4 linked regions of the Homo sapiens genome follow. Changing the gene in region 4 together with the main gene of any one other region gives a genetic interaction. Each region holds a gene or a part of one and is shown on either strand. Other genes may lie near its edges.

Evidence for each region. A genetic interaction does not mean that the proteins touch.
Region 1: changes in ARL5A (region 4) and SEC23B together harm fitness more than expected from each alone (negative genetic interaction), as found in Homo sapiens cells (one large-scale study listed by BioGRID).
Region 2: changes in ARL5A (region 4) and TRAPPC12 together harm fitness more than expected from each alone (negative genetic interaction), as found in Homo sapiens cells (one large-scale study listed by BioGRID).
Region 3: changes in ARL5A (region 4) and ETAA1 are lethal when combined (synthetic lethality), as found in Homo sapiens cells (one large-scale study listed by BioGRID).

The regions. Positions count from the first base shown.
Region 1 is NC_000020.11:18,544,880-18,549,439, reverse strand, and holds part of SEC23B (protein transport protein Sec23B), read right to left. Parts: intron 3,485-4,560; coding exon 3,407-3,484; intron 832-3,406; coding exon 670-831; intron 1-669. UniProt on the Homo sapiens protein: Component of the coat protein complex II (COPII) which promotes the formation of transport vesicles from the endoplasmic reticulum (ER).
Region 2 is NC_000002.12:3,416,634-3,421,193, reverse strand, and holds part of TRAPPC12 (trafficking protein particle complex subunit 12), read right to left. Parts: intron 1-4,560. UniProt on the Homo sapiens protein: Component of the TRAPP complex, which is involved in endoplasmic reticulum to Golgi apparatus trafficking at a very early stage.
Region 3 is NC_000002.12:67,408,901-67,412,589, forward strand, and holds the end of ETAA1 (ewing's tumor-associated antigen 1), read left to right. Parts: intron 1-1,010; coding exon 1,011-1,138; 3' UTR 1,139-3,189; downstream 3,190-3,689. UniProt on the Homo sapiens protein: Replication stress response protein that accumulates at DNA damage sites and promotes replication fork progression and integrity.
Region 4 is NC_000002.12:151,813,851-151,819,470, reverse strand, and holds part of ARL5A (ADP-ribosylation factor-like protein 5A), read left to right. Parts: intron 1-4,271; coding exon 4,272-4,332; intron 4,333-5,154; coding exon 5,155-5,302; intron 5,303-5,620. UniProt on the Homo sapiens protein: Lacks ADP-ribosylation enhancing activity.

The DNA of each region.
Region 1 (4,560 bases), on a different chromosome or scaffold from region 4:
TGTACATGTACAGACTTGTTTTCTTGTCATTATTCCCTAAACCATACAGTATGACAATTATTTACATGGTACTTACATTATATTAGGTATTATAACTAATCTAGAGATGATTTAAAGTATATAGGAGGATGTGCCAAGGTTACATGCAAATATTATGTAATTTTATATTAGTAACTTGAGTATCTAAGAATTCTGGTATCTGAGGGAGGTCCTGGAACCAATCTTCCATGAATACTGAGGGTCAACTGCATTTCTCAGGTTACTTATTTATTTTCCTATATTAAACATTCGGATTGTTATTTGATCCTCTATTATAGTAGTTCCTTTACTATTTTTTTTTTTGGCACAAAGTCTACTCTGTATCTAGGAGTCTTTCCTTCAGATACAAGACATGGAATTGTTGGATGTAAGTATACAAGCACAAGGAAAAAGAAAGCATCCAAGTTATTTCCTAGAGTTTTTTACATTTATTCCTGCCTTTCACAAATAATAGCTTTATATGTCCTTTGACATTTTCCTAAAGGTATTTTTTAATAGAAATAATGTTAAATTACTATAAAAACTCCAAATTTTACTTCTTTTTTACAGTTCTGCTAAGTAAATTTGCTTAAAAAAGAATATATGTTAGGTGATTCCAATCCTCAGGAAAGCATTTGGGTAGAGCCTCACCTCTGGTGGCCCATGAAAGGAGTAAGAGTAGAGAATGGGCTGGATCATGATGAGGGACTGGGTCAGGTCCTGCCGGGCAAAATGATGTCTGTAATATGACGACTCATCAGGACTGTTGTTAAACACTTGAAGAAATGGAGATCTTCTCAGATGGAACATAAACTGCATTCACAAAGAACGGAAAGAGAAATGCATATAATTGTAACCTTCTTAGACACCCACAGAGTAGATCTACCTCAGGGCTCTGAAATAGGAGAACCCAGAAAAGGGCTCTCTGGTTTCACAGAACAGAAAGCATAAGGGGGCACCAGGGGCTAGGGAAAGAGGAAAACTGAGAGTTGTTGCTTAATGAGCACAGAGTTTCAGCTCTGCAAAGTGAAAAATTCTAGACATCAGTTGCTCAATAATGGGAATACACGTAACACTACTCAACGGTATGCTTAAAAATGGTTAAGATGGTAAATTTTGTTATGTGTGTTTTACCACATTAAAAATTAATTTTTTTTTTTAAAGGGCCTTTGGCCAGGCGTGGTGGCTCACGCCTGTAATCCCAGCACTTTGGGAGGCCGAGGCGGGCGGATCACCTGAGGTCGGGAGTTCAAGACCAGCCTGACCAACATGGAGAAACCCCGTCTCTACTAAAAATCCAAAATTACCCGGGTGTGGTGGTGGGCGCCTGTAATCCCAGCTACTCAGGAGGCTGAGGCAGGAAAATCACTTGAACCCAGTAGGGGGAGGTTGCGGTGAGCTGAGATCAGGCCATTGCACTCCAGCCTGGGCAACAAGAGCAAAACTCCGTCTCAAAAAAATTAAAAATTAAAAATTTTTAAAAAAATACAAAATTTTTTTAAGAAAAGGGCCTCTGGGTATGTCAAAGCTTCCACAGTTAAGAGGAAAGCCAAAGAAATGTTTATTTCCAGAGTCACTGTGCCAGGCAGTGGAGACAGAATATCTGCTCTCAGAAGTCAGGCCCAGTGAGAAAGGCACACTCGGGCTACGAGTTATGAGCCAGAGTACAGGATAGCAGTGGGGAGTGGGGGTGGAGGGCCAGGAGGAGACTTCCTAGAGCTCCGGGGACTGACAGTGCACCCTGAGAGACGTGGCTGAGGAGGCCACAGGGCCAGGGGGAAGGGGATTCCAGGCACAGGAACAGCAGATGACAGCTCAGGACACAAGCTGGGATGGTGAAGTGTTGGTGCAGGGGAGAAAGGGACAAGGGATGACACTGCAACCATAGGTTCTCGCCCTCGAGGATGAGAAGAAGGGGTGGGGGCAGACTTTCAGCTCACATTAAAGAGTTGCCAGAACACGAAAATGAGCTGCCTTGTGAAGTGTAAAGCTTCCTGAGACTCCAAATATTCAATCATAGGTTCCTAAATAATAATCAAGGCTGACATCTAATACATCCTACATGCAAGTCACAAAGCACTTGACAAGAACTATTTAATCCTTCCAATAAGCCCATGAGGTAAGTTCTCTTACCATCCCTAGTTTACAGGTGAGGAAACTGAGGCACAGAGGGGCGAGCAACTTGTCCAAGGTCACCCCACTACTGAGTGTCACAGCTGGACTCTACACCTGGCCGCCTGGCTCTAGAGACTGGGCTGTTGGCCTCTTTCCTAGAATGCCTTGACAGAAGGAATCTGAGAAAGCATTTCATCTGGTTTTCAAGCTGTGCTCTTAGAGTCTTCATCAAGTCCTCAGGGGCCCAGGGATGAGGGCTCTGGTGGGACCCAGTGTGGGGGTGGTACACAGGCACAACCAGAGAAGCACCAACTCTGTCTGCTTTATGTGCTGGCTTTTAAGGGCAGCTCCTCTCAAAGAAAGGATTCCATGGCTTTAAAAAAAAAAAAAAAAAAAAAAAAAACTGCAAACCACTTCACCAGACCAACTCCCCACTGCTAGAGGTGGGAAACCAAACTCTACGGGGCTTTGGAACCTCCTCTAAGGTCAGCCCCTGCGGAGCCAGCACTGGAACCTCAACCTGACTCTGGCCGGTCCAGGGCTCTTCTCACAACACCACACAGCTTTAACCTCTGGCACATGGACACCTCAGAGTCCCAGGCACCTGCTATGGAGCTAGGTCACATTTAGTGCTGAACAGGTTACTGGCATTGTGCTAAATATTTAATACTCAGTTGGCCTCAGCTCCTGTAATCCTTATAGACACCCATGAATTGTGCTCTATTTCCTAAGTTACAATGGAGACGGAAATTCATCTACTTCTCCTGCTCCTCTCTCTTGTCCAATGGCTTCCAAAGGCTTGGTTCATGCAGAGTGCAGTTACTTTCAGGAGCTGCTTATTGCTCACTCCTGGTTATGATGCACATAATAACCACAGACATATTATTAAATATTTGTTGTACTAACTGTGGTTTTGTTTTGTTATCTTCATCTCCATGTGTGCTCATTTTCTTGGTTTGTTGCTGAGGTAGCTGTTTCCCCAGAACTTCTACACATGAGAGATATTTTTTACGGCCTTATATCAATGATCCTATTTTGCCTGTTCATGAAAATGTATGCATGAGTTTTCTCCCCTCTGCATGTCATCTCTATCTTCTGTAGGGCGTAGGGTGCTGTCTTGCCTAGACACATATTCGACTTGGGTTGAACAATCTCTGTCACCTACAGACTGAGTCTCAACACATTAAAAAGTCTTCACTTTACCCTAAGAATAAAGTTAATTTCTATCAAAATTTATTGCTCTGTAGTTATTTTAGAAACATACATTACTTACCTGAGGATATAGAGAAAAGGAATCTGATAACCTAAAAGAAGTGGGGTCTTCTTTGTTATACTGTCCAAACTTTTGACACTATGGAAAGAAAATACCAAAAAACAAACAAACACACACAAAAAGAGAGAGAAAAATCTAAGTTAGCATTACCTGGAAATATTCCTGGACTAAGCTACATCCAGTCTGAACTCTGCCACTTACTATAAGTCCTAGACTAGCACTTCTCAAGCATCAGTGAGCAGGCAAATGACCAGGGGATCTTGTTAAAATGCAGACTCTAGGGAGGAGCTGAAGATTCTGCATCTCTAATCAGCTCTCAGGCAATGCTGGCCTGAGGACTGCCCTAACCAGAGAAGCTAGGTGAGCTCTTCCAGGCACCTGTTCCATATGAAAACCCTCTAACACCATGAAAACTAACAATTATAGTTACGCTTTGATGTTCTCTCACACTAAAACTCAAATTTATTTCTCCCAATGGCAGACTTCTGAACCACAATGTTTTCTCTTCCCGCCTTTATTTCTGCTCACACATTTCTGGTCACTAAAGAATTGGACTGTTCATCATTTAAAGAAACCCCATTTCTAACAATTACTTTCTTCCCACAAAATCTGGTGTCCTTCCGCAGTTCTCGTCTTCTTGAACTTCCTAGCAGCATGAGCCAGGTGACTGCCCAAATGTCTCGAAACTTTCTCCTTCAGCTGCTAATACATCACTTTCCTATTTCTCATAATCTCTCCAACCAACCCTTTTCTGCCTTCTTCAATGGTTTTGTCTTCCTCCTCCCCCTAACTGTGGACTCCTTGGGGGTTAGTTCTTGGCCCCCTCCTCCCATCCTCACTGCTTTGGGTACAAATGAACACTAGAGCCAGATGGGTGTCATCCAAATCCACCCTCCAGTGTCCAGTGCTGACCTATAGCCTGAGCCCCAGTCAGGACATCCACCCAAATATGGGAGTTTTCGTGAGACACACTTTTGCAAGTTCACATTCAATTATCAAAAATTATCAAAAATAAACTATTACATTAAAAAAAGAGAAAAAACTTTCTCCCACCCTAAAGTTGCTCTCCTTTCCCATCTTCTACCTCAACACCACTCATGCAGTTACCCATGTGTGAAATGTCATTCAGTGCTGACTTTTTGGTTTTTGACTTT
Region 2 (4,560 bases), about 150 Mb from region 4:
AATGGGAAAATAAGATCAGAATGTTTAAACCTTTTAAGAAGCTAAAAGTGGATGCTCACTCTGTCTTTTCTCAATGTAACGGGCACTATCTTTGAATACGGTAGATGTCCTCATTTCTGCAGCCAGTCAATAAACATGCTTTAAGTACCTCCTGCCTGACAGAGACTGCAAGGCTGGCGGGGAGGTTAGTGAACGAGCACTCATTAGTGGTATGATCTAGCAAGGGAGACAGACAATTAAACAATATGTTTCTCAAGAATTAGCTAAATGATTTTGTGTGCATGCCAAGCGCTTCTCTGACAAGAAGTTTAGGAGTTTACATATTTTAAAAACGTGTGGTAGAGCCTGCCACACACTTCTTCTGTATACTAACTCACACACGCACTACTCCCTTTCCACGCCTCCTGCACTCCACGCCGGGACACAGAGAACTCAGGACCTGCTCATGAAACGCCTAGGAGGGCAATGAGTCTCAGCTTTGCACTACAGTTGTTCTGCAGTCCTTTATTTGGGCTTCCTCAGGCAGGAGCTAACGACCTGCTCCAATTCCAGCCACAGCGGCGGTGTGGGGGGCTGTGTTGAAGGCAGGAGAGTGGGGCTTGTGTCTTCCGGGGTTCTGACATGTGGCCTCACACTCACACTGCAGGCTCAGCAATGGCTGAGTTTACAGAGCTGAGGTCATCTGTCCCACCTCACAGATGTGACAATTAAAGAAGATACATGAAAGTGCTGAGCACAGTGCCAGGCAGGAGGCAGGCATTAAAAATGTGAACGATGCTGTTAAAAATTCCCAAACTGTTTCTTCATCAATCCAGAGTCAGCGTGTGCGTGCCTAGTGAAACTCTATGTGTAAGGAAAGGAACGGGTGCTGGGCCTTGAGCTTCAGACAGGCCAGGCTCTACGCCTGAGTAGCCGTGTGACCTGCTGCAAGCCACCAGCCGTCCCTGGGCTGCAGGCATCTCAGTTTCCTCCAGGTCTTCTGAGGGGTTGATAGTTGTTTTTTTTTTAAATGCTGAACATCCTACTGTCCACATTACCAGTGTGTTTACCCACTGACCTATCGAAGGACCCCTTGGTTGCCTCTAGTTTTTGGCAACTATGGATAAAGCTGGTATCAACATCTTTGGGCAGATTCTTGTGTGGATATAAGCATTCGGCATAACTGGGTGAAATATCCAGGAGCGTAATGCAGTAACTGGATTGCTGGGTTGTACCTAAGAGTATGTTTAGTGTTGTAGGAGGCCGCCAAGCTGTCTTCCTAAGTGGCCGTGCCATCTTGCCTTCCCTAGCAGTGAGGGGTCCCACGGCTGCACGTCCCGTGGCACTTGGTGTTGTCCATGCTATTTTTCAGCCACTCTAACTGGCATGCGTTTCACTCTCAGGTGAACTTTCCACCGTTCTCTCATGGAGTTTTTCCTTTCACTGTACCTGCCACAGCCTGACGGTGAGTACTGGCCTCCACGGCACCCACCAGCGAGCTGCAAATATTAGCAGGGCAACTCAAATGAGATTTCTTAAACTCTATCTTGTAGATTTTTTTTTTTTTTTTTTGGAAATGAGGACACCAGAGCGTACACAGTGCAGTTGGAGTCTGTGGTTTTCTTCACTAGCTGGTGTGCGGCCACTGGACCAAGTCAGAGAACCACTGATCGACGGTGAAGATGAGATCGGTGCCACGTTCCCCTAAACTGTCCAGACTACAGCAAGTAATACAGGATTTCTGTGTTCTGGTTGACAGTTCAGAAGTATTTTTAGATTGGTTACGATAATTTACTAAAACGATCTCCAAATGCCTTCTCTAGTCTAAATTCAATGCAATAATCACTTTATATAATACAAATGGCTCTGTATATTCTCTTTGAATTGCAAATGTGAAAGAGTGAGAGGGAAAGAGATTGTGCCAAGTCTGAACCAGTTCTATATATGCATCTAGGCAGATTCTGTATCCAGGGGCAACTAATAACTGCTCCCTTCCTGGTTCCCTAGGCCTAAGGCTCTGGCCTTTCCTGCTAGAAAGGCTGGGGCCCTCTTCCCTCAGGACATGACCTACAGTGAGGACAGGCAGGAGTTAATCAGGGAAGGGGAGGGGGCGGAGACCCTAGAAGAGGACAGAATGTGTGCAAAACAAGGCGAGAGCAGGCATGGGGGGCACAGGGAGCAGAGGGCAGGGTGCAGGGCCCGAGGGGATGCAGTAAGGACCAGCGGGCCGGAGGGAGGCGGTGGAGGAGGGGCCGAGCAGGTGTGGATGAGGAGAGGCTGGGGAAGCAGGTGAGGATGGGGTGGCACAGGAGGTGAGGCAGAGGAGGGTCGGGTGTGCTGGCCTTTGCAGGCTTCCAAGAGCACAGGCCACAGCAGTGTCGTGTCATCACATTTGAAGGCCCCTGTCTCCCTGCACTGATGGGGTGAACTTAAGGCGTCCGTGTAGATGTGAGTAAAGCTATGAGGATGTTCCAGCAGCTGGGCCTGGTGCTGGCAATCTGTGCACATCCTTTGGACGCCCCCCACCCCCTACTGCCTGAGTTGGTAGGCAGAGCTCACAGGAACCCAGAGCCCAGCCTCGTGTGCACCTGCACGGTGATAAGGTTCTGTGCTACCATGGAAGAGCTGGGCATTCACAGCAGAGCTGAGGAGCTGGACAGATACTGTATGGCCAGGAAGTCTACAATGTTTATTCTATGGTCTTTTACAGAAAACGCTGGCGGATCCCAGGTCTAGGCCCCTCGTGGCTCAGTAGTTCATTTCTGTTGACTTCAAGGAGGACTGTGGGCTGACTTCAGCCCGCGAGTGGCTTGCGTCTGATACCTGAGGACGAGGCACAGGAATGGAGATGCTCCTGTAGTCACGTGACAGAGAACTTTATGTGTATGGCATGCAGTGATAACAAAGCAGGGGCCTGCATTTGGCATGTTTTCCATTTTATTCTTTCATGACTGATTATTGTGAATTAGTTATTATTTATATTGATGGTGCAGAGTGGCAGAAGCAGGCGAGTATTTGTAGAGATATGGTTTTCCCATGTTGCCCAGGCTTGTCTTGAACTTCTGGGCTGAAGTGATCTACTCACCTCAGCCTCCCAGAGTGCTGGGATTATGGGATTACAGGCATTAGCCACTGTGCCTGCCACTATGACAATGTTTTTTTTTTTTTTTTTTTTTGAGACAGAGTCTCTATTGCCCAGGCTGGAGTGCGGTGGCACGATCTCGACTCGCTGCAATCTCCGCCTCCTGGGTTCAAGTGATTCTCTTGCCTCAACCTCCTGAGTAGCTGGGACTACAGGCGCCCGCCACCACGCCCGGCTAAAGTTTGTATTTTTAGTAGAGATGGGGTTTCGCCATGTTGGCCAGGCTGGTCTCGAGCTCCTGACCTCCGGTGATCTGCCTGCCTCGGCCTCCCAAAGTGCTGAGATTACAGGCGTGAGCCATCACGCCCGGCCAATGACCATTTTTAAAAATGAGAAACTTAAGGTTTTAATTCTCGTGGAAAGAAGAACAAAGAAGTTCGATGAGTAAATGTTGGCGGAATCTGCATTTCCTCATTCATTCACTCAGTGGCCATTTACTGACTGCCTGCTGTGAACCAGGCACTGTGCTAGGCTCGGGGGGACACAAGGCCGACGAAGAGGGCCAGGTCCCAGAAGCCAGGGCAAGTTTCCAACATCAGGTCACAATGGTGAGATTTCAGTTCCAGGCAAGAGGGGCAACTGGGTGCTTCTAAACAGAGAAATGTATTTTGAAATAAAATGTTTGGAAAACGAATCCAGCTGCAGCGTACAGACCGACTAGGGCAGTCTAAAGACTGCACGTGGTCAGACGCTGCATCACCTGGCCCGGCAGGAGGAGAGCAGCAGGCAGCGGGGGCGGTGGGGGGAGCCGTGGCTGCTCCCTAGAGGGTGAGAGAGACCCAGAAACAAACTAACCAATAAAACACTAACGTGGAAATCTGAGGGACAGCGCGAACCTGTCTCTACCCACCCAGGGCAGGCCGGACATGGAGACGCAGCAGGCAGATGAGCTGGGTTTTACAAAATGACAGAAGATATAAAAAATGACAAGATGGTGGAACAGTCACGTGAAAAGTGCCTGGTAAACCTGCAGATGGCAGGTTGTAGCTGAGGAGAGAAGACACTGGAGATGCAGGTTTGGGAGAAGCATGTGCCAGGGAGAGGTGACCCAGAGAGGGAGAGGAAGGCCTTCCTGAGAGGAGCGGGAGCAGGTACCACAGAGCATCTGCCCTGCAGCCCAGGAAGGCTGCCCAGCAGGGCACAGTGAAGGGGCAGGGGGAGGGCACAGTGAAGGGGCAGGGGGAGGGCACAGTGAAGGGGCAGGGGGAGGGCACAGTGAAGGGGCAGGGGGAGGGCAGTGAAGGGGCAGGGGGAGGGCACAGTGAAGGGGCAGGGGGAGGGCACAGTGAAGGGGCAGGGGGAGGGCAGTGATGGGGCAGGGGGAGGGCACAGTGAAGGGGCAGGGGGAGGGCACAGTGAAGGGGCAGGGGGAGCGCAGTGATGGGGCAGGGGGAGGGCACAGTGAAGGGGCAGGGGGAGGGCACAGTGAAGGGGCAGGG
Region 3 (3,689 bases), about 84 Mb from region 4:
AGATAATTAGTCAAGCTAATTAGAAAGTATCTTCTGGTGTCTCTCTTTAGGAAAAAATATCTACAGTCTGTTAGGTAAATAGCTTAGGAAATAAAAGCCATCAAAATCATCTGGGAAACTTATTTAAAATATGTATTTCTTAGCCTGAATACCCCCTCCCATTTCTGATTATACCAAGAAAGGAAAGGGAGGCAGATTATATATTTTGAAAATGCCTCTGTTAGTTAACAAGAGAAATGTCTCATAAATTGTGTATCTTTTTCTAAATGTCAGAATAAATGATATACTTAAATATGTATTAGGGTGATAGTCTTAAACTTAAAATATCATTTAAATGAGAAAGTGATTTCTAATACAAAGCCTCAACTTACTAAGTTAATTGAGATTATTTTAAAGTTTCTCCAAAATGCATCCTCCAAATAAAAATATAATTTCTGACAGTGAATCACAGGTAACCAGTTTGACATGACAGATTTCATTTTATCACTCTAAAATATATTTCCTCAGTGGATGAAATGAAAATTTTATAGCTCTATAGGGAAAAGTAGATGTGAATATTAATATAACATCTTATGTAAATATACACTGTTTGAGATTGATAACTAATTTAATTCCTTATATTTTGACTATTTTCCAATTAAAGTTTACATAACATTTTAAATCCCAATGTATCCTTTTTAAAGATATATTTATTCGTGGGTCATATAAATTAGATGTCATTGTCCACAAGAATTATTTGGTGGGTAGTCAGTTTTCTATCAAACTGAATTTTATCACACTGTGAAAAGAATGTATCAAATAGAGACAGATCCATCAGTGCTTGATTTTCTTTTGAACTGGAGCATTATATCTGTATTATGTACTTAGAATTTTATATTCAGTAGTTTAGTTTGATTTAATAGCCAACTAATATGGCAAATCTGGGTGATTAAAAAAAGCAAAAATTAAAGCACATATTGAATGACTTTATAGGCTATAAAAGTAAAACTCATCTTTTGTTGAATTTTTAGAGGAAGAAGAGAAAAATAGAAAGTGTTCTCCTGAAGAAATTCAGAGAAAAAGACAAGAAGCACTGGTTCGGAGAATGGCTAAAGCACGAGCCTCATCTGTAAATGCAGCTCCCACTTCATTTCTTTAATGAAATATTAGTTGGAAGACTTCACGAAGACTGCTGATAACTATCTGTGATTGATAGGAAATTTTTTTTCTTGATTTCTCTGTGAGAAATGTAATGCTGACTTTTATAAAGCCTGGACTTCTACTTTATTTAATAAATCAATGTTTGCAATGGTAAATGAAACATTTCCTTGGACATGTATTTGAAAGTCATTAAATACAAAAGTTTTGGAAATTCAGGAAAGTTAGCAATTATGTACGGATATTATACAGAGGAAAGTAGTTATATTTTTAAATGCTATTATTGCAGAGGATCATCAAAAAAGAGGTAATCTACGTTATTTCCTATTCTAATGTCTTTTCCTAATAAAAAACTTCAACTTTCTAAGTTAGTAGAGACTGTTTTTGTAGTTTTACTTTCATTAACTGTTGCTTAAGGTTTTTATACACTTCCAGATTTTAATTAATACTTTCATATTTCTAGGAACATGGTTGATATGAAATAAAGGACTTTTTATTTGTAAGGAAATTATGTTCAGTTCTTAGAAGTGGATTTGAATTTTAATAATTCTAAAATGTGACACATTTTGGAAACTTTCCACCATATTTAGGAAAACTTTGATTTTAGAAGTCTAACATAGAGGAAAAGAAGTAGTGGATTGTCTACAAAAGTAATGTGGCATCATTAACATTTAGAACTGGCAGAAACTTCATATGTCATCTGGTCCAGCTTCCTTATTGTATCGGTGAGAAAAAGTAATACTGTTTTCAAAGTCATAGGCAAGTTAATGCTGTGCTACAATTAGAATGATTTATTTGGACACCTAAACAATTATACTATTTGTTTCAAAGTATCAGTACATAAAATAACTTGAGGGAGTATTATTTTCTAGTATAAAACAAAAGATGTAATTAAAAGCACAATAAGGACTGTTTGATAATAATGCTCATTGTTCCTTATTTTGCTTTAAAGAATTAGTCTTTCCAGGATATAAAAATGAGAATCTTTTTTCTTTTCAGTTTTTCTGTAACTGTAATTTTCCCCTCAATTAATTTACTTAGTTGACTCATCTTTTCTTCTCTATTACTGTTTTGTTTTTTTCTTTTTTTGCCATTTTGCCTATTTGGAATTTGCTAAACCAGTAATAGAAGTCCAACTAGAGGGCGTAAGGCAGGGAGGATGCTTTATTCCTCTTAAATGGTTTTAGGAGATCTAGAGAAAGTTAGAGATATGAAACACCTGTCATGGTGTGGCATTTATCACTATCAAGTGTCTCAAAGCTGTGATAATATGGTAGTTACTGCCCTATAGCTATACAGATACTCCTCAACTTACCGTGTAGTTACATCCCAATAAACCCATCATGAGTTGAAAATACCTTAAGTTAAAAATGCATTTACTACACTTAATCTACCAGACAACATAGCTTAGCTTAGCCTACCTTAAACATGCTCAAATCACTTATATTAGCCTAGAGTTGGGCACATCATCTGGCAATACGGCACACTGTAGAGTATCAGTTGAGCTGATGCCCAGCATCGTGAGAATGTTGTACCACATATCTCTAGCCTGGGAAAGAATCAAACTTTAAAGTATGGTTTCTATTGGACGCATATCACTTTTGCATCACGTTAGAGTTGAAAAATTGTAAGTCAACCATTTTAAGTTGGAGACTGTACATCAAAAATGGTATTTTCATATCTACAGTGGAGTACTGGAGTTTAGCTAACCTATATTATTTTTCCAGGAATATATAATAACCTAGATAAATGCAAGTAGTTTCTATGTACAAAAATAAAGAGCTGAGAATCTTTTACTAAAAGTGGCTTCACTGTGTTCTGACTATGCTTTGGATATCTCTGTCCTTGCTTAAGCTCCTCCCTGCTTACTGCTTGCTTTTTTAAGAGTACTTTTAGCCTATTCTGTTCATTCATTTAGACTCAGCCTAATAAGTCTGTTTGAACCTCGTACCTAACCATCTTCACTGGAATTGATTGCTTCTCTCTGATCATAATGGTACTAATTATTGTGTCTTTCATTGAGCAATACTATAATGCCTTTATGTGTTGTTTAGTTGTATAAATCTTATTTTATAATTTGTCATTTTGTGTCTCTGGTAATTCTGCCAAATTCTTATACAGCTCATAGTATTATTTACGTAATAGTTTTCTCTAAGTGACTCCCTTTTTTTAAAAAAAAAAAAAAAAAAAAAACTTTTATAGCACTTCTGGGTGGTGGCAGGTGTAATGGCCCTGTACATCTGAACCTCACATGACTGGTTTTTAGGGTCACTGCTCCTGTTCATACCACTCTCCTTTCCTATCCTGACTCTTCCTTTAGCCCTTGTTGGAAACATTAGGGGGTGAATGGCCCATAAATGAGCATGCAGAGGGCTGACTATATAGTTTGCCTGGCTTTTCTCTTTCCTAGTCTATAGGGAATCTGGGGAAGGGACAACTGGTAGCCTGGCAATTTCCCCCTAAAGTTCCGCTGCTGTTTCTGCATCTCAGACTGATGCTAATAATGCCATTATTTCCAAAAAGAGCCTGTTGAAAGCGGAGCTTATCTCTCA
Region 4 (5,620 bases):
CAAAAAAAAAATGGCACTCATTTTAGATACCTTTTACCTTATGACCAAGATGATACGAGGTGGCTCATCTCCCACTTTAAAGTCAAGTTCATCTTCAGAGTTTAAAAGATTTGCCACCATTAGGTGGCAATATTCAAAATGGTGTACCTCAGGCTCTGAAAGCAATTATAAAAGAACCGTAGCAAACTATTTTGAAAAAATGGTAACATGGTTGGAATAAGTGTTTAACCTCCTTAGCTGATTACGGCCCTTGTAAGAAACTGAGAGAGTACTGTTTTTTACTTCGTTGTCTCTGTGTACATTATTTATACATATACACATTTTTTAGTCATTCTTTATTGTTATATATTATAGATTCTTGCCTATGTTTTTGTTTCCTTTTGGACTTTTCCTGCTAATTTTGTACTGTTTTTAGGGTCAAAGTAGTTGTATTTTCTCTGGTATTTCATTGGTCAGAGTAATTGTATTTTCTTCCCAAGTATTGAGAAGCCCATCTAAATTCTGCCCCGTAGCTAATACATTGGGGGAATGGGGTGGAGGCGGGGGCGGGATATATTCCCGTAACTTAAAAATAAGCTGACATTTTGAGAATGCTGTGATTAAAAATCAGTATTCTCCTGGGAAGCTAAAAACTCTTATCCAAGTCAGAGATCAGAGTATAGCCTGATAATGAATTCTAGTTGTGTTAAAAATGTTTATGAGTGCGTGTATTAATAAAACTGAAGAGGAGTTACATCATCAAAAAAGGAATGCTTAATTTTGGGACATAGAAAAATGGAGTTAGGCAGAATTGCCATGCTATTTAAAAACTTTCTAGGTGCAAAGGTACCTTGTCCCAAGGACTCGATTACCTGGCCCTCATGCAGGCATGGCCTTGCTCTAAAGATGAATTCAGACCAGGTACAGTGGCTTGCACCTGTAATCCTAGCACTTTTTGAGGCTGAGGCGGGAGGATTGCTTGAGCCCAGGAGTTTGAGACCGGCCTGGGAAACACAGGGACATCCCATCTCTACAAAAGAAACAAAATATCCAGGCGTGGTGGTGCACACCTGTGGTCTCAGCTACTCAGGAGGGTGAGGTGGGTGGATCACTTGAGCCTGGGAGGTTGAGGCAACAGTGAGCCGTGATTGTGATACTGCAATCCAGCCTGGGCAGCAAGAGTGAGACCCTGTCTCAAAAAAAAAGAAAGGATTCACATCAGTCATTGCAGCCTGTAACACTCCTTGTGGTTGGGATTCCATGCTCCCCAAGTAATCATCTGATTTTAATTCAGCCATCATGTAACATATCCTCAGGGATAGACTTGTTACTTGTCATTCATTTTTCAACATTTGATCTTATTGTATGTTACTCATTTGCTGTTCTTATTTATGTCTTAGTCATTTCCATGAATTGCTCTCTCTGAGTCCTGTCTATTCTGGGATAGTAGCAGAATTGTTTGTGGATCTGGGAGACTAAAGACCACAGACGGGGTTTCGCTCTTGTTGCCCAGGCTGGAGTGTAATGGCATGATCTTGGCTCACTGCAACTCTCCGCCTCCTGGGTTCAAGCGATTTTTCTGCCTCAGCCTCCCAAGTAGCTGGGATTGCAGGTATGTGCCACCACGCCCAGCTAATTTTGTATTTTTAGTAGAGATGGAGTTTTACCATGTTGGTCATGTTGGTCTTGAACTCCTGACCTCAGGTGATCCACCCGACGGCCTCAGCCTCCCAAAGTGCTGGGATTATAGGCATGAGCCACCACACCTGGCCTGGGCCCTAGGTCTTTAAATTATTCTTAATAACTCATAAAAGGGGCAGGTGGTCATGTCACTTAAGGACCCTAGTGGTTCTAAGCTGCCTGCTCTTTCTTACAAAGAAATAGATGACTGGATAAAATGGATTGTATTAAAATGTTTTATTTACTTGATCTTCCTATTTTTGTATAATAGGAGGTGCCTATAGATCATTAGGAATTTCCTCTGGTAAGTGGCAATTATATGGAAAACATCTACCATTTGAATTATAAAGATCTTACTCTGAGGTGTTATAATCCTCAACATTTATTACTTATAGAATGAATATTAATTCAACATTTATTGAGTACCTACTTTATGCCAGGAATAGTTGTAGTCACTAGAAATGTAAAGATGATTAATATGTATTCTATACAGTTGAAGATGCCTCATTAAGCGGAGATTAGTGCACATGTAAATAATTAGGATAAGTGCTAGAGTAGAGGTAGTGTGGGAAAGCAGGAGAAAGTGATTCTACATGGAAAGCTAGACTTTAAAGGATTGGTCTAATTCCCTAAATGGAGAATTAGGATAATTCCGACATTTAGTGATACCATGAGTAGCTGTAGAGAAATGTTTGCTGTGAACATATGTGCAGCTTGTGTAGGGAGAGTGACTTGAACTTTAGTTTATAGATGCCCTTCAACTTGTGATGTAGTTATGTGCCAATAAACTTGTTGTAAGTTGAAAGTAACTTAAGTCAAAACACATTTATTACACCTAACCTGCTGAACATCATAGCTTAGCCTAGCCTACCTTAAATGTGCTCAATACACAGACATTAGCCTCCAGTAGGGCAAAACCATTTGATAGCACAGTGTATACTATTATGCAGTATTGGTTGTTTACCCTCGTTATTGAATGGCCGACTGGGAGCTGCAGCTTATTGCTACTGCCCAGTGTCTTGAGAGTGTTGTACTAGATATCACTAGCCTTGGAAAAGATCAAAATTCAAACTTTGAAGTACAGTTTCTAGTAAATTTTTATCTTTTTCTGGGCTAGCAAAACAGGTTAAGAACTCTCTCCTCTTCAGTGCTAGGCACTGCTGTGTGCTATTTTAATTGTTAAACAACCCTGAGTGATAGGTGGTATTTCCCCTATCTTACAATGAAGAAACTTAAGGTCAGAGAAATAATAAAAGTCATTTGCTCAAGGTCATATAATGCCATTAATATCTCCTTCAGTTATCTGTTTCTGTGTAATAAGCTATTCTTTAATTTTATGACTTAAAGCAATGATTTATTATTTTTCATGTTTCTTACGCGTCGACTAAGCTCAGCTAGGAAGTTCTACCTTGGGGAGTCTCCTTTGGTTGCAGTCAGATAGCAGCTAAAATTAAAGTACTCTGTAGGTTCAACCAGGCTGCACGTCCAAGATGGCTTCTTTATTTGTCTGTCTATCATCTCAGCTAGAATGGCTGGAAGAGATAGGGGCTGACTGGTCATCCCTTTCAACAGGGTCTCACCACATGATCAACTTGGGCTTACTCATTAAATTGCACAGCAGTCTTGGGCTTGCTGTATAGTATCTGACTTACCCTAGGAGGACTTGTCCAAGACAGCCAGGCAGCAACTGCAATGTTTCTGATGATTTAGGCTCAGAAATCACGTCTGGTCATTTCTGCTGCATCTGTGGGTTAAAAGTAAGTCACAGGGCCACCCCAGATTCAAGAGGAGGCGGCTACGTAAGGGCATGACTATCCAGAGGCCATCTTGGACACTAGCTTCTACCACATGCTGTGCTGTCTTTGGGAATTGCTTTCGGACAGGCTGGAAATAGATGGGTCTTACAAATGCCTGGCTGAAATGTGAAGAGGGTGCAAGAAAACATCTGGGGAACGTGAATGTCTGAGAGAAGACTCAAGGAAGAGGAGTCATTGAAAAAAAATAAATGACTAGAGACAGGAAGAAAACTTGGAGAAAGTGGTGCCACAGAAGCCAAATGGGGGGAGGGAGTCGCTGCCACCATAGCCATAGGTTCTTAGATTTGTTTTTCATGTTACAGTGGCCCTGTGGTTTTAAGGTACTCATAATTTACGATTACCCATTTAAAAAACTGACCTTTTTCCTTCCCATTCACTCCACTCCACACACATGCACCCAGTTGATGCCTTAAGTTCCAGTTAGAACCTCATTGATGTAATCCAATGTGAAACATTTATACTTTAAGTCATTTGTAAATTGTGATTATGTTTGGTCTACTTTACTGAGAGTAGGCTTGCCTAGGAATAGAGGAAATGTAGTGCCATGGCTTCCTAGAGAGGTGGTTGGAAAGATGAGAGTTGTCTCTAGAATAATGGCGATGGGGAAGGTGAGTATAATGGCACACTTCTGCTGGTCTTGCTAGGATGTTCTTTTGACTTCTGAGAAAGTATAAAGTGCCATGCACTGAATTATGCCATAGATAGAAGGGTGAGATACAGAGTATATTTTTTCCTATAATTAATCTTTTTTTTTCCTTTTTTGAAAAAAAATCACTGGTGTTTTCTCTATTTCAGAGCACAAAGTTATCATTGTTGGGCTGGATAATGCAGGGAAAACTACCATTCTTTACCAATTGTAAGTATTAACTATTTTAAAAATTATTTTATTTCTAGTTACTTTTTTGGCCTGGGTGATAGTCGATCAATGAATGCAGTAAGAAATTACATGAAACCTAAGTTACCCTGTAAGAAAGCAGGTTGGCTATAAACCTGGAGCCAGATCTCAGCAATAGTTAGTAGAAAGCAAGAAATTTATATGATATTGAGCATATAGTTGGCATTGAGTTGTCCACTTGTTTTGTGCTAAAGCTCTTTTGTTTGTAGAAAGTAGAAAAATATGGCCGGGTGCGGTGCCTCATGCCTTTATCCCAACACTTTGGGTGGCAGAGGTGGGAGGATCGCTTAAAGCCAGGACTTTGAGAAACCGCTTGGGTCACATAGTGAGATGCCATCTCTTTATAAGATATATATGAATATATATATATTTTAAAATTAGCTGGATGTAGTGGTGCACACCTGTAGTTCCAGCTACTCAGGAGACTGAGGTGGGAAGATTGCTTGATCCTATTCAGGAGGTCAAGGCTGCAGTGAACCTCATGCCACTGATTATGTATGATCACACCACTACACTCCGGCCTGGGTAACATTAAAAAAAAGAAAGTAGAAAACTATAAAGTAGAAACTATAAAGTTTCCTGGAATGACCTAGTATATGCCAGATAGCCTACGACCTAGTTCCAGCCCTGTTTAAACCCTCACTCATGTTGTAAACTAGTGGGAAAAAGATATTTAGGTATAAATTATAAAAGGAGGTCATGCTGATTTGTCCTTGATTAAAAAATTGTTCAAGCAAGTTAGCTTCCTTGCTAATTGTAATGTATATAAACTTTTTTCCCCAGTTCTATGAATGAAGTTGTACATACATCTCCTACAATAGGAAGTAATGTAGAAGAGATAGTGATTAATAATACACGTTTCCTAATGTGGGATATTGGTGGCCAAGAATCTCTTCGTTCTTCCTGGAACACTTACTATACTAACACAGAGGTAATGTTTCTTACAATATTTAAAATTCTATAAACAGAATGCTTGGAAAACATCTAGATTTGAGTCCTTATAGTTAATCTTTTTGAAATATCACAGTATGTTAATACATAGAGAGTTTAAGCAGAGTAAAATCTGATTTCCTATTCCAAGGTCATTGTTCAATATGTCCACTATCATTGAACCTCTATAGGGAGAATTGGTGGTTAATTATGTTCTGATTGTGTATTGATCTCAGAACTTGTCTTTAATAGTTTTTTTTAATGACTTCCATCTCATAGTTTATAATTTCATTTCTCTCTATTTATGTTTGACTGAGTT